Regions from separate parts of the Homo sapiens genome. Here all the other regions are reported to be linked to region 1. The links are microRNA targets in miRTarBase. Many come from high-throughput screens and were not tested one by one. Region 1 holds a microRNA gene; each other region holds the end of a gene's coding sequence.
Evidence for each region. The annotated mature microRNA hsa-miR-6739-5p reads UGGGAAAGAGAAAGAACAAGUA and lies in region 1 at 2,611-2,632, shown strand. An mRNA with a match to its seed (bases 2 to 7 or 8) in the 3' UTR can be bound and repressed. Matches are read on the target gene's strand: a 7mer-m8 pairs with bases 2 to 8, a 7mer-A1 pairs with bases 2 to 7 and ends in A, and an 8mer does both.

Region 2: miRTarBase lists RMDN1 as a target of hsa-miR-6739-5p. Seed matches in the 3' UTR shown: 7mer-A1 at 3,193-3,199, 7mer-A1 at 2,678-2,684 and 7mer-A1 at 1,988-1,994.
Region 3: miRTarBase lists BMP2 as a target of hsa-miR-6739-5p. Seed matches in the 3' UTR shown: 7mer-A1 at 739-745.
Region 4: the mRNA of RPH3A is a reported target of hsa-miR-6739-5p. Seed matches in the 3' UTR shown: 7mer-m8 at 2,702-2,708, 7mer-A1 at 1,891-1,897, 7mer-m8 at 1,789-1,795 and 7mer-m8 at 1,615-1,621.

What each region holds. Positions count from the first base shown.
Region 1 is chr1:201,860,768-201,864,917 of GRCh38, forward strand. MIR6739 (microRNA 6739) reads left to right here and starts at 2,606; the gene lies at 2,606-2,680. It overlaps IPO9 (importin 9), which reads left to right. Exons shown (of 24, transcript NM_018085.5): 14 at 2,681-2,840.
Region 2 is chr8:86,470,548-86,474,547 of GRCh38, forward strand. RMDN1 (regulator of microtubule dynamics 1) reads right to left here. Exons shown (of 10, transcript NM_016033.3): 10 at 1,802-3,811. The coding sequence ends at 3,761. Among named protein-coding and RNA genes, the nearest start is that of RMDN1, 36 kb to the right of the region's middle.
Region 3 is chr20:6,778,454-6,782,453 of GRCh38, forward strand. BMP2 (bone morphogenetic protein 2) reads left to right here. Exons shown (of 3, transcript NM_001200.4): 3 at 1-1,793. The coding sequence ends at 636. Among named protein-coding and RNA genes, the nearest start is that of BMP2, 13 kb to the left of the region's middle.
Region 4 is chr12:112,896,213-112,900,212 of GRCh38, reverse strand. It overlaps RPH3A (rabphilin 3A), which reads right to left. Exons shown (of 22, transcript NM_001143854.2): 22 at 1,332-3,563. The coding sequence ends at 3,433. Among named protein-coding and RNA genes, the nearest start is that of OAS1, 8.7 kb to the left of the region's middle.

The DNA of each region.
Region 1 (4,150 bases):
TTGTTTTTAAAATAAAAGAAATGGAAACATGTTTTCCCCTGGCTGTCAGAGCCATGATATCACATACCATATAACCTCTGGAAAACTCCACTGTATACTTGTGAAAGAATGAAAGTGAGGCCGGGCATGGTGGCTTATGCCTGTAACCCCAGCACTTTGGGAGGCTGAGGTGGGCGGATCATGAGGTCAGGAGTTCGAGACCAGCCTGGCTAACATGGCCTAACCCCATCTCTACTAAAAATACAAAAATTAGCTGGGCGTGGTGGCACGCGTCTGTAATCCCAGCTACTCAGGAGGCTGAGGTAGAGGAATTGCTTGAACCCAGGAGGCGGAGGTTGCAGTGAGCCGAGATTGTGCCAGTGCGCTCCAGCCTGGGCAACAGAGCGAGACTCTGTCTCAAAAAAAAGAAGGAATGAAAGTGAAAAAAATAATGTTTCTGTATTACTGTGAAAATAGTTTTAACTTTAGGGAATTTCTGGACCATCCTTTGGGAACTGCTTCTGTACATTATCAGTTTCTCACTTACAGTGGTTGGACTTATGATTTTTCATCTTTACAGTGATGCCAAAGCAATATGCATTTAGTAGAAATTATACTTCAAGTACCCTTACAACCATTCTGTTTTCACTTACAGTATAGTATTCAATAAATTATATGAGATATTCAACACTTTATTATAAAATAGGCTTTGTGTTACGTGAGTTTGCCCAACTTTACGCTAATGTAAGTGTTCTGAGCATGTTTAAGGTAGGCCCGGCTAAGCTGTGATGTTCAGTATTAAATTTAAATGCATTTTTAACTTACAGTATTTTCAACTTACGATGTGTTTATCAGGAAGTAACCCCATCATAAGCAGAGGAGCATCTGTATTGCGTAATTTGACTGGCACAGTTTATTAGGTTCTGTTCAGTGTTTTCCGTCAACAAGATGTTTATTGTGTGAGTAAACAAGTTAAGCCCTGTGACAAGCTGAATAAGAATAGTCTCTCCTCAGCAGCTTATAGTAAACAAGGGTAGTAATCCTTACATTAGTGGCTAGACTATCAAACGAAATATATAACATGTAAGAACACTAAAGACAGAATTACTGTGGCATAGAGATAGTTAGAATTGCTTCAGCCTAAGAGATGAATTAGGTAATGCAAGGAGGTGAATATGTTGGCTTGCAATATGAACAAGGCAGAGAGCTGGGAGAGTAAGATGTAAGTTGCTAAGGAGGGATGTGTACTTGAGTTTGGAAACCATAAAGGGAAATCATAGGTAATGCTAGAGTCACTGATCTTAGGGAGCCTTGAATAACGTGATGACTAAGGTAATCTTTATTTGGTGGACTATGGAATTAATTGACAGATTTTAAATAGAAGAATGACATGATCAGAGCTATAATTTATGTTTTAAGAGTGGTCCAAGGCTGCACGCGGTGGCTCATGCCTGTAATCTCAGCACTTTGGGAGGCCAAGCCGAGTGGATTGCTTGAGTTCAGGAGTTCAAGACCAGCCTGGCCAACATGGTGAAACCCCCTCTCTACTAAAAATACAAAAATTAGCCAGGCGTGGTGGTACGCACCTGTAATCCCAGCTGCTCGGGAGGCTGAGGCAGGAGAATCGCTCGAACCCGGGAAGCAGCGGTTACAGTGAGCTGAGATTGTGCCACTACACTCCAGCCTGGGCAACAGAGCAAGACTCCATCTCAAAAAAAAAGAGTGGTCCAAAAGTGGGAATAAACTAGCAATGGAGATGGCAACTTAGAAGATTAAGTGGGCGGGTACCATGGCTCACACCTGTAATCCCAGCACTTTTGGAGGCCAAGGCAGGCAGATCACCTAAGGTCAGGAGTTTGAGACCAGCCTGACCAACATGGAGAAAGCCCATCTCTACTAAAAATACAAAATTAGCTGGGCGTGGTGGTGCATGCCTGTAATCCCAGCTACTGGGGAGGCTGAGGCAGGAGAATCACTTGAACCAGGGAGGTGGAGGTTGTGGTGAGCCGAGATCGCACTGTTGCACTCCAGCCTGGGCAACAAGAATGAAACTTCATCTCAAAAAAAAAAAAAAAAAGATTAACTAGTAGTACAGGTAAGGAATAATGAGAGCTGGGGGTGAGGACTGGGGTGGTAAAGTCTTTTTAGTCTAATAATATTCAAGATCTACTTTGCTCAGAAGAGACAAGGGAAAACTGGGAAATTGATTTTGTACCACAGGTCACACATTTGCTTTCATCATACAAGGTTATGCTTTTTCTCTCAAATGAGTTGTACATATTATGTAGCATCTATTTACTTCTAAAAAATTGAGGAATGGAGGGCCGGATGCGGTGGCTCATGCCTGTAATCCCAGCACTTTGGGAGGCCGAGGCAGACAGATCACTTGAGGTCCAGAGTTTGAGACCAGCCTGGCCAACATGGCAAAACGCCATCTCTACTAAAAATACAAAAAATTAGCCGGGCATGGTGGCAGGCGCCTGTGATCCCAACTACTCAGGAGGCTGAGGCAGGACAGTTGCTTGAACCCGGGGGACGGAGGTTGCAGTGAGCCGAGATCACGCCATCGCACTCCATCCTGGGTGACAGAGTGAGACTCCATCTCAAAAAAAAAAAATTGAGGAATGAATGTGGGAAAGAGAAAGAACAAGTAAAAGGAATTTTCATTTTCCAGCCCCTAATTGTTCTGTCTTTCTCCCAGTGTCTCCTTTCCTCTTGGGCCGGGCACTTTGGGCTGCCAGTCGGTTCACTGTTGCTATGTCCCCTGAACTGATCCAGCAGTTCCTACAGGCAACAGTTAGTGGTCTTCACGAGACACAGCCCCCATCAGTTCGAATTTCTGCAGTGAGAGCCATCTGGGGGTGAGTATGCTACCCTAGCGTGATAATTAAGGGAAAGTTGCTCAGGTTAGATATAACAAATCACAGTTTTCCAGTGTATTATGTTGCTTGGAAATCCCTGCTAATGATATCCTTCAGGGTGAATGTTGGAAGGACAGGGAAAGAAACCATGCTAGAGACATGGCTTTTGTGAGTCCAGAAGATGTCCTGTTCCTTTCTGCTCCTCTTCCTCTTTAAATTCGCTCCAGTTCTGGAATCATCTAGGCAACTCCCTTTCTCTCAATGGTGAAGAACCTGAGGTTTGGAGAGAAAAATGTTTTGCACAGGGTTGCACAATTGATGAATGATAGAAGCAGGATTAGAGTCCACATCATTTTGTTGGTTGATTATATTAGAAACCAAATCTGGGATAATGTGACCTAGAAACACTGCTTATTTTTTCCCAGTTTTACCTATCTTTTTTAAGGCTAGTGTTACTAATGGATCAAAAGTCATTTATTTATATTCCTACGCAGACTAGAAGGACCATTGTTGTTTTAAGGAATATCTTAGGCTCAAACTTAAACATCTCAACTGAATCCTATAACTACCAACACAAAATTTATTTTCCATGTGCCTGCCCTGTCTTATCTTTTGAGGCAGAGGAGTATCTTTTGAGATGCCGTGTGTTATATGTCATTAGAAAGCATTCAAGAACTGCCTGTTTTAATTAAATGGTTAATGTTATGACCATAAACACCGTCCCATCTTTTTCTGCTTCAATCTAGGTGAAGCAGATCTTTGGCTCTAAAATAATTAGAAGTATCATCTTAAGAGGCAAACTAAGTATAGCTTTTTCAGAAAGCTCTAACACCATTTTAAATGTCTGAGAAGAGAGAGCCCTAAGCTGCTTAAGGCATGAATGTTATTTTAAGGGTTTTTCTGAGTTTGTACCTGTGGTCACTGCCTGTTTAGCTTCTGACCTTAGTGAAACTTGATTTCATTGGAGAATTATCCACTTTGTGTTGTGATTTTATGGAAATGTTTGCAGCTGCAAGCTGTGAGAGGAGTTTGGTATGAATGTGAAAGTACTTTGGGTAAAATAAGCCCATTACTTTCCAGAGTGTTTTAGGTAGACAGCAGTACCTATCAGGCATACTTACCAACATTGATTCTCTCTGGGGGAGATTAGAGTACAAAGAACTTTCATTCTCTGTTATATATATAAAATATTTTGTTTGTTTGTTTGTTTCAACAAGTTTATATTACTTTTATAATCAGAAGAACTGTGAAGAAAACTTTTATTTTTAATGTTCATATCTCTTGGACCACATGGGTAGTGGTTTAATAGT
Region 2 (4,000 bases), not on the chromosome of region 1:
GCATGTATCCCAGAGAGATAAAATCTATGTAGACATAAAAACCTGCATATAATGCTCATAGCAGCTTTATTTGTAATAGCTAAAAATCAGGAATAACCTAAATGCCCCTCAGCATATGGTTGATATGGTATGCCCATAAAATGAAATACTAGTCAACTGTAAAAAGAAACAAACTATTGATAGAACTTAGGTCTCAAGGGAATTATGTTGAGTGAAAAAAAGTATCACAGGGTCTCACTGTATGATTCCATTTGTATAACATTGTTGAAATAACAAAATTATGGAGAACAGATTAGTGCTGTCAGAGTTAGGGATGGGTGGGGGAGAGGAGGAGGTAGATGGGTGTGACTGTAAAGGGACAGCACTGGGGATCTTTGTGATGACGGAACAGGTCTGTATCTTGATTATGGTGGCAGTTACCAAAAATCTACATGTGATAGAATTGCATACAACTATACACACAAGAGCATTTAAAAGTGGTAAAATTTAAATATAAGGTCTGTGGTCTGTACCAATGTCAGTTTCCAGGTTTTGCTATTGTACTACAGGTTATATGAGATGTTAGCACTGGGATAGGCTGAGAGAAAGGTACACAGGATCTTTTTTTTTTTTTTTTCAATTTGTGAATCTATGATTTTTTGAAAGTAAAAATATTTTTTAAAGTTCTAATAAGGAATCAGGAGGTAAGACCTCCATAAAAAGCTTTATTATTGAATGATACCTGATCTCACAAAAAACAAACAACTAAGCAGAAAATATTCTTGAACTAACCCAGACCCTTTCTTCCCATTTGATGACCTAGTATTGCTGGTAACTCAACATAAAATTACATCCCTAGGGAAAAAAAATAAAGTCACTCTAAAGAGAAATTGAAAATGAGAAAAAGGAGAGTAAACTTTAACACAATATGCTAATATGAATTAAATTATTAGATATTTAAAAAATCTGAAATAGCAACTTAAAAACTCAGAACTGGACAAACAAAATGCAGATGTGAATGACTGGCTAAAATCAGGAAAAAAATTCGGAGAAAAAGACAAACACATATCAGATGTGAAGGCAATTATAAAGTATCTAAGGAAGAAGAGATACAACCAAATGTAAAATAAGGGATATGGAAGATATAAATGAAAAGAGCCAAGAAAATGAAACAAAAAGGCTAAAAGAAAAATCAGTAAGTGATAAATGTGAAAGTCAGGCAAAGATCTAATAGAACTAATTTGAGTCCTGGAAATAAGTTGGAACAGCGGTTCTCAAAGTGTGGTCAATTAGACCAATCTGGAATGCGAGAGAATCTATGACAACCGGACTGGCCTATTCAAAAAGTCAATGTTGCAAGAAGAAAAAGATGGGGAACTGTTGTGGATGGAAAGATTAGCAACAAATCAAATGCAATGTATAATCTTTGGATCCTGATTTTAGAAAGCATGAGACATCTTGGGGACATTTGAGAAAATTTGAATATGGGTAGATATTAGATGATGTTAGAGAACTGTTAACTTCTCCAGTTGTGATAATGGTTTTGTGTTTGTTTAGGAAGATGTCTTTATTCTGAGAAAATGCATGCTGACACATTTGGGGTGAACTATTATGATGCTTGCAATCAGTTTCAAAAGGTTTAGAAATGTATGTGTCTATACACACACAAACACACATGTATAAATACAGGTTGAACATCCCTATTTCCAAAAATCTGAAACCTGAAATTCGTGCTCCATAATTCAAAACTTTCTGAGCACCAAAATGATGCTACAGGTAGAAAATTCCACATCTGACCTCACATAACAGGTCACAGTCAAAATGCAGGTGCACAACACAGTTTATTCGGTCTCCCTAAAGGAAAAAACCCATTTTAAAAAGCCATCCAGCAGAATGCCACATCCCTAGAAAGACCCACTTCCTGGCCCTTCAGCTGCTTCTGTTTCTCTTCACCTACAAAAATAAAATTACAGTATACAATAACCTTTTAAAATACAGCATCATTAAGTGGGAAACTGAAAGCCTGCCATTGTTGTTGCCGTTTAACAGCTGATACAGGTTTCTGGTGATGCTACTGTTGCCTAGCTACCCTGACCACATTATTTTTTCACTGTATCAGTGGTGTGTCATATTTTTTTTTTTGCCATCCTTGTTCCTGTGCGAGTTATGTCATATTTTTTACTGTTAAGTACTTATGCATGAATAAGTATAAGAAAATAACTGCTTATTGGTAGCATATACATTCAGTCAGGAATGATGGTGACATCAACCAACCACAAATTACCCACATGAGTGGCTGAGATAATGACACCTTTGCTTTCTGATGGTTCAAGGTATGCAAACTTGGTCTCAATGCACAAAATTATTAAAAATAATGTTATATAAAGTTACCTTCAAGCTATGTGCATAAGGTATATATGAAACAAGTGAATTTGTGTTTAAACTTGGGTCCCATCTCCAAGATATCTTATTGTGTGTATGCAGGTATTCCAAAATTTGGAAAAACATCCCAAATCCAAGATGCTTCTACTAGTCCCAAGTATTTCAGATAAGGGATACACAACCTATATAGCAAAATCACTGAATCTAAGAGATGGGTATACAAAGATCACTACTTTCAGTTTTCCTTTTTGTTTGAAAATGTACATGACAAACATATCCATACAGTTCATTGTAACATTACAATTCCCAAATCCTTTGGGAAAAATCCACCTACACACACAGTCTGTCTTTATCTAAGTGGATTCAAGATGCTCCTTTTTACAAAACTTAAAAAGATTTTGCAGTGGTGGCACTCCAGCCTCAAGTGAGTAGCATAGTCCTGCCTATTTAAAAACATCTTAGTATTCCATTTCACTCTTAAGTTTTGTGTTCCTTCCATTCCATTAGGGAATAGAACTTTGCATCTGATGACAAATTCAGTTTACCATGAGACTACACCACATTTAAAGTAAACTGGCCAGGTGCGGTGGCTCACGCCTGTAATCCCAGCAATTTGGGAGGCCAAGGCGGGCAGATCACTTGAGGCCAGGAGTTTGAGACCAGCCTAGCCAACATGGCAAAACCCCATCTCTACCAAAAATACAAAAGTTAGCCGAGTGTGGTGGTACAACCCTGTAATCCCAGCCACTCAGGAGGCTAAGGCAGGAGAATCACTTGAACCCGGGAGGCGGAGGCTGCAGTGGGCCGAGATTGTGCCACTGCACACCAGCCTGGGAAACAAAGTGAGACTCTGTCTCAAAAAAATAAAAAAGGAAACTACTCCATTTTTAGTCATCTCCTTACTTAGTTCTTTACTTACACAGGTTAGCTCCAAGATATATCATTTAACTACTTTATGTCAGGAACCCACAACATCCTAACCACTGTCACCACACCTTCTCTTCAAGATTTCAACTTAGAATCAATCCAATTTGAAAATCCATCCCCCTGTATATCCCCTATAGATCCATTTCCCCTCCTCTACAAATATTTCTTTGCTTGATCTCCCATCCCAATGTGATCAATCCTTAGAAATCTCATACCATTTTGCATTGCTGGTATCCAGGATGCAAAATAATCTCTTTGCCTGAGCCATGGAGATTTATTTCTACCACTCTTATGGCGATTATTTATTTTACCCTATTATTTGTGAAGAAGCCTAGAATATTTTATATTTACACGGTTAAATGGTCACAACATTTAAAAAGCCGTAGAACAGTTATAGTTCATATATTAAGTTTAGAATTAAAAGAAAAGGCAATGTTTATTAGCTATTTCATAAATCTTCTCTGAAAAGTTCTCAATTCTTCTCACTGAAACTTGTAAGCAACTGAGCAGCTTCTGTCTGTATCTAAAATGGAAAAATACATGTTATAAGTAAACAGGAGAGCTAAGAGACTAACTTGTGAAATTTAAGTTTATAAAGTGGGGTTTCTAAGAGTTTCCAAAAACCAGATAGGACATTATAACAATAAAATGTCTTGACAGTGACCAGATGAGACTCTCAGCTCTTCCACTTTAGTACACATCCCATGACTTT
Region 3 (4,000 bases), not on the chromosome of region 1:
TTCCCCGTGACCAGACTTTTGGACACCAGGTTGGTGAATCAGAATGCAAGCAGGTGGGAAAGTTTTGATGTCACCCCCGCTGTGATGCGGTGGACTGCACAGGGACACGCCAACCATGGATTCGTGGTGGAAGTGGCCCACTTGGAGGAGAAACAAGGTGTCTCCAAGAGACATGTTAGGATAAGCAGGTCTTTGCACCAAGATGAACACAGCTGGTCACAGATAAGGCCATTGCTAGTAACTTTTGGCCATGATGGAAAAGGGCATCCTCTCCACAAAAGAGAAAAACGTCAAGCCAAACACAAACAGCGGAAACGCCTTAAGTCCAGCTGTAAGAGACACCCTTTGTACGTGGACTTCAGTGACGTGGGGTGGAATGACTGGATTGTGGCTCCCCCGGGGTATCACGCCTTTTACTGCCACGGAGAATGCCCTTTTCCTCTGGCTGATCATCTGAACTCCACTAATCATGCCATTGTTCAGACGTTGGTCAACTCTGTTAACTCTAAGATTCCTAAGGCATGCTGTGTCCCGACAGAACTCAGTGCTATCTCGATGCTGTACCTTGACGAGAATGAAAAGGTTGTATTAAAGAACTATCAGGACATGGTTGTGGAGGGTTGTGGGTGTCGCTAGTACAGCAAAATTAAATACATAAATATATATATATATATATATTTTAGAAAAAAGAAAAAAACAAACAAACAAAAAAACCCCACCCCAGTTGACACTTTAATATTTCCCAATGAAGACTTTATTTATGGAATGGAATGGAAAAAAAAACAGCTATTTTGAAAATATATTTATATCTACGAAAAGAAGTTGGGAAAACAAATATTTTAATCAGAGAATTATTCCTTAAAGATTTAAAATGTATTTAGTTGTACATTTTATATGGGTTCAACCCCAGCACATGAAGTATAATGGTCAGATTTATTTTGTATTTATTTACTATTATAACCACTTTTTAGGAAAAAAATAGCTAATTTGTATTTATATGTAATCAAAAGAAGTATCGGGTTTGTACATAATTTTCCAAAAATTGTAGTTGTTTTCAGTTGTGTGTATTTAAGATGAAAAGTCTACATGGAAGGTTACTCTGGCAAAGTGCTTAGCACGTTTGCTTTTTTGCAGTGCTACTGTTGAGTTCACAAGTTCAAGTCCAGAAAAAAAAAGTGGATAATCCACTCTGCTGACTTTCAAGATTATTATATTATTCAATTCTCAGGAATGTTGCAGAGTGATTGTCCAATCCATGAGAATTTACATCCTTATTAGGTGGAATATTTGGATAAGAACCAGACATTGCTGATCTATTATAGAAACTCTCCTCCTGCCCCTTAATTTACAGAAAGAATAAAGCAGGATCCATAGAAATAATTAGGAAAACGATGAACCTGCAGGAAAGTGAATGATGGTTTGTTGTTCTTCTTTCCTAAATTAGTGATCCCTTCAAAGGGGCTGATCTGGCCAAAGTATTCAATAAAACGTAAGATTTCTTCATTATTGATATTGTGGTCATATATATTTAAAATTGATATCTCGTGGCCCTCATCAAGGGTTGGAAATTTATTTGTGTTTTACCTTTACCTCATCTGAGAGCTCTTTATTCTCCAAAGAACCCAGTTTTCTAACTTTTTGCCCAACACGCAGCAAAATTATGCACATCGTGTTTTCTGCCCACCCTCTGTTCTCTGACCTATCAGCTTGCTTTTCTTTCCAAGGTTGTGTGTTTGAACACATTTCTCCAAATGTTAAACCTATTTCAGATAATAAATATCAAATCTCTGGCATTTCATTCTATAAAGTCCAACCTGTAAGAGAAAATGGTGCATTTGTATAGCGCTTACAATGATGACCTTGTGTTTGCATTTTTGTTTCTGAAGTTATATATTTTAGAGGGGGTGGGGGAAAGGTAATGAATGGCTGGAAAATTGCAGGCAAGTTATTTGATAAGTCATATTTGCACTAAAGGTGTTACCAGTGATTTAGTATTTTTCAAATGAACTTCTTTGGGGCAGAAAGATTTAAGGGAAAACTAAAGCCTACAAAACAAGCAAAACCTGGATAACCCGAGATAAAGTTTCAGAGATAATAGCCCATGCAACAGAGGCAACGGTGCCAGAAAATTAGAAAGGGAAAGTGTCGGAGATCAGCTTCTATAAGAACATCTGCCAGTTGGACTGACGCCCAAACAGAATGAAGTCAAATTAGGCTGCTCAGATTGAACACTTACCAGAGTGTCAGGGCTTCTGTACCCTGGGTTAGAATCAGACCAAGGAAGGGTTCAGCAGATGTTCATAAGAGCAGGGCACCCACAACTACCCACTATTTTACTGGCAGTATTTTAGGTCAGTTTCCAGGACTTTGCATCCCCTCTGATCCTGCCATGCATGATTGGTGAAACCTACCTCTAATCTCCTTGGAATTGGCTAAAAAACAGTGTGTTTATAATGGAACAGACTGTTATAATCAAATTCTTCCTAGGAATTAACTTTTGATGACTATGAGCTTAGTTACAGTTCGGAGGTTATGAGGTTATGTAAACCTTATCTTTAAATGTGCATGACAGTTATCTTTTACTAATGCTGGTTAACTTTTAAAATCTTGCAGCTCCTTTTTATCTCTAGTTCTATTGTTCTTGATTAGGTGAGAACCATTAGATCATACCCAACTGAGGGGATTGGGGTCTTGTTTGTTCTCCAGCTGTTCTTCACCCTCTATTGCCATGGACATGAAGGACAGACTGCACGGTCTTAACATGTTAAAACGAATGACCCATGTTTTCTCATATTCACATTCTCTAGATGAGAGCATGAGAGTATAGCACAAGAATTTCATCCTTTGGCAGTTCCATCCACCCTTTTGATTTCTCTGCTTCATTGGTTCTAATATTCTTGGTTAAAACTGTTTTCAATGGTGTCGACTAAAATGTGTTATCTTGCATATGCGTATTTAATATATAAAACATAAAATACATAAATATACATCTAAAGATGTATGTAATATGTAGTACATATGTATAGATGCTGGCATTTTCAGTTTAGTTTCAGAGATTTTATAATCAGACACTCTGACCCTCTTGGAAGCTCACATGAGAAACAATATTTTTACAAACATCCTACATTGTTACAGACATTTTAGCTCACAGTCTTCATTCCGAGGAATAAAGAGTCAAAATGAACATAACACTGAATGTCTTTAATTGCACTCACTATTCTATAGGATCCTTGGAATCATTTCAGAGTTGGCTTTAAAAAGTCCACACATAGTCATTTCTGAATTTTCAGGGGCCCGCCTTTCAAAATCGGTTAAACTGATCATCTGTTTTTGTGCTTGTCTCGACTGCATGTGCCCCTCTGGCATGGTTTTAACCTGTATGGCACGTCCGGGTTACCATGTTCATTATTTGCCTTCAAAAATTAGGAAAAGAGAGTGTGGGCAGCTTACAGATCTATCTGTGCTTCCATCTTTTCATAATTTCTACTTAAATCGCAGCTTTAAATTGTACCTTAAGAGGTCAAGAATGGAGAGATGATCTGTAAACCTGATCTATATAACAAGCTGTATAATCACTACATTACCTAAGCAATCCATATTTTTTCCCTCAATTTATTACTGGAGAGGGAAAATCATGTGCACAATTCAAAGGGCTTTCAAAAATAGCATATTTCTATGCTACTGGCATATTAATGTTAAGATTCACCGAATGTTTACGTGCCACAGCCTCCTTATCTGTTCTAAGGCAAAAGGAACATAGCCTTGCAGTCAAGAGCAATTAAAGCCTATAGTAATTGTGGCATAGATTCATAATCCAAGAAAAGTTAAGAATGTCCTGGCGCCATTTCTCTTCTGTTTTATATTTATTTATTTATTTATTTATTTATTTTTGTGCAGGGAACGGGTAGGGTGAAATGGGGGATAAGATGCAGGTCTGCTCAGCTTGGGTAAATTGCTTTTCCTCTTTCCTCCACCCTGCTGACATAAATTACAGCCTTTT
Region 4 (4,000 bases), not on the chromosome of region 1:
CACGCCACCACACCTGGCTAATTTTTGTATTTTTAGTAGAGACAGGGTTTCACCCTGTTGGCCAGACTGGTCTCGAACTCTTGACCTCAGGTGATTCACCCACCTCGGCCTCCCAAAGTGCTGGGATTATAAGCATGAGCTGCTGTGCCCGGCCAGAAAATATTTTCAACTATACACCTTATCCTCAGGGTTTAGCAGAATCTGTGGGGAAAGAAATCTCCCAAGTGAGACTAACATGCCAGCTTTTGCTTTTGAGGGCACAAACAGGAAATGGTCTCAAAGAAAAGAGAATTATCTGTGGGACAGAATTGATGGCTCCTTCTTGAAGTAACCATTACTGATAAATTGCTTAAGCACTTTGGGGATGGATTATAGTGTGATTAAGAATTCTAGAGGCCGGGTGTAGTGGCTCACACCTGTAATCCCAAAACTTTGAGTAGCCAAGGCAAGTGGATCACCTGAGGTCAGGAGTTTGAGACCAGCCTGACCAACATGGCGAAACCCTGCCTCTACTAAAAATATAAAAATTAGCCGGGTGTGGCGGCAAGCACCTGTAGTCCCAGCTACTCGGGAGGCTGAGGCAGGAGAATCACTTGAACCCGGGAGGTGGAGGTTGCAGTGAGCAGAGATTGTGCCACTGTACTCCAGCCTGAGGGACAGAGGGAGACTCCATAATAAAAAAAAAAAAAAAAAAGATTTTTTTTTTCTGGAGAGTCAGTTGCTGACTCAGTTCACCTTCAGGACTATCGAGAATCTCCAATGAGAGAATCATTGTAGGTTGGAAGGTGCTACAATGCAAGGGAGGCATTTGATGGTCCATGCTCATCGATCAGTGTGTGAAGAACACTGGATTCTGGGAGTCCAACGATCGAACTCCTTTCCTGGTATTGCCTTTGTTTAACACTGGACATGGCATTTTCTTCTCTGGACCTTGGTTTCTTCATCTGTCTAAAAAGTGAGTTGATTGAACTAGGTTGTGGCTCAATTGTATGTTCTCTTTTAGCTTTGGCAATTTCTGATTCTGCAACCACCTGGGACGTTTCCCAGGTCTTGTAGCAGCAGGAGGAGGATGAGGATGTTGCCCTCCTGTTTGGTAGGCACCAGCAAAAAGTATTCTTCTAGAAGGGTTTGGAGTCAGCCAAGTTACCTTAGGCCCACCTGCCCAAGATAAAATCCACCATAAAGCAAACTCCTCGTGGGCAGAGAACACATCTGTCGCCAGTGCCTGGAACATAGTAGATGCTCATTAAGTACTGACTATCAGAATAGCATATGTCCTGGTGGGGAGGAGGACTTCGCAGAAACCAGAAAGGAAAACTGCAGACCACTCGTTTTCTTGGATGCTCCTACTTTATTTTTGGCTACATCATCACAAAGAAAGATGCTGGGTGGTTGTGCATGCACCGGAGGACGTGTGTGTATTCTAGGCAGGGAGGTGGTTACATTTGTCGGGGACAGCGGGCACCCAGACTAGGGGCACTGTGAGCTTGCTGCATGCTGATTCCAGCGCCTACACCAGCATCAGGCTTGGGCGACACAGCCAGCATGCTGTCTCCTAAGGGGAAACTGTGGTGAGGGAGGTGGGCTGAGAGTAGGTGCCACCAGGGACTAATGGGGAAAGATAAGGTCAAAAGGAAAGATGGCAGCCAGGAAGCTGTTGGCCACCTTGGGGAAGGTGAAGAGCTCGATGTTTAGAAAATGGTTATTCAAGGCAAGAAATGAGTCCTCCCATGAATTGTGCAGGGAGCTGAGGGTGGAGGGCGTTGAAAAGTTAAGAGATGTGATTTGGGGAAAGTGAGAGTTTGAGTATCTGTCTGATGCTTCTGTAGAGAATGTCAGGGGTTTGGGATGACTGGGAGTGATTTTCATGAGGGAAGACTTCATCAAAATTGGGAAAATCGAACCTTTCTCACAGGGCATTGAAGATTGCCTGACTTCAACCTCAAATTTGTAATGTTTGCCCACATTGCCTTTTCCTCCTTTATAAAATAATTTTTTTTATAGGAAGAAAGTGAAAGATTGATGATGAGCCCAAAGCCTTTGGCATCAGGCCTGTCTCTCTCTACTGTTCCATAGCCATGATATTATTTGATTCTCCCAGGAAGCTTAGTAACGAGAGTGCAGGAGACAGAGAGACAGACAAAGAGAGACAGAGAGACTGGAGGGGGTTCTGAGTGAGAGATGGGATGCAAAAGAGTCAATGAAACAGAGTCAAGGGCATTGGGGAGGAGGGTAGCTTGTTCATTTACCTAAGAGCGGAGAAAGGAGAAAGGCTGGAGGCTTTGGCTGAGGCTTCCTCAGACCCATGGCCCTGGTCTTCTAAATGCCTCCGTGCCCACCCGGGGAGCCCACGGATGAGAGAGTCCTCTATGGGGCATCTACACAGCTTGAGGGATGCTGCCATGCACTCAGGGCAGTGCCAGCCATTGGCCCAAGCCCTGGGAATGTCTGGTTCTGCCAACGGGAGGAGTGGGTCAGTTAAGAAGCGTGGGCCCAAGTGGAATCTCAGGTTTGGGCCAGTTTCTCAGTTTCCTGGTCAGGCTGGTGAGAGCAAGGGGGTGAGGCTAGGTTAACATACACTTTTTTTGCTGTTGTTTTTGCGGTGTTACTGCTTTAGAGAGAGAGAAAGGCAAAGGGAAGAAAGGCAGGGAGAGAAAGGAGAGGGGAGAGGCTGAGAAAGAGAGAATCTACTATCATGGAAGGGAAAGAAGAGGGAGGAGGAGAAAAGGTGACAGAGGAAGGGTTTTTTGTTGTTGTCGTTTGTTTTTGTTTTGCTAGGAAGCACACAGGTGACATTCGGAAAGAGGAGAGCGTCCAAGCCCCTGGTGAATTCTGTGCATTTGCATCCTGGTGCACTTGGAGCAGGGAGGGTGTGTTACTGAACACAGCAGTCTGTTTTCCTGGCAATCAGGGTGTACATCTCAGGGGGCAGTGGGAGCCCGGAGGCTCTATTTGTGCCCCAATGCTTCTCTCACAGCATTGTCCGGGTCTGCTGACAACTGGGGATATACAGAGACACAACACAGGGAATGAAAGGGTGTGTGTGTGTGTGTGTGTGTGTGTGTGTACATGTGTGTGTTCAAGGCTAGGAGGGTCTAAAAACAGTCCTAAATGATGAAGAACCTTTGTAATTTACCCAAACTGAGAGGTTATTAAATGATCAACCTCTTTGTAAACGTCTCCCCAACCCCATCCCCATTGCTCCATCCCAGGGATGAGAGAGGGGCTGTATTCAGAGCCCACATCCCAGCATCAGGGAGGAGGGAGTCTTTGGCAGCAGTGCCCAACGTGACGGGGGCTCAAAGGCAGGCTCAGGGAGATCAGCAGGGTATGGGGGGAGGTAGGCATAGAGAAGAGAGATCAGGGTGCGGTGGGCAGCTAGAGCAGGCTGGGGGGGACCCGGGACATGGAGATGGGGACCTGGGCACTAGCCTAATCACTTGACACGTGGTTCTCATTCTGTAGCTGGTGCCAGCGCTCTATCTTCTTGTCTTTATTTTTCAGACACTCGTACCAGTGTTTTAAGCGCTCTCCCTTGGCAGAGATCCCCAGCTGGCAGCCTCCTGGAGGATAAATGGGAAGATAGGAGCAGGTGGTCAGAATAGAGGTCGTTCTAGACCCAAATGTGTAGTTGGGGAAAAAACTGCACCAAGCAGTGACCCCCAGCAACCTGGGATCCATACTCTATAGAGAGTTGTTATAACGTTGCTGCTGTTGTTGTTATTATTATTACGGTCCTTCTCTGCCTCAAGAACCTGCAATGGCTCCCTACTGTTCCACTGAGTCATAATTTCACTGTCTATTTTTAAAGGCTTTCTACAAATCACCATTCTACTCACTGAAACTTATCTCCCACTACTTCTGGGAACTCATTGTCTATTTCCAAAAAGGTTCATCATCCTGCTCAATCCTGTCTTTACCCCTTAGCTCAGGCTCTGTCCCTTGCCTGGAGTCCCCACCCCCCTGCTTCATCTTTAATTGATTTTCTTCCTCATGATTC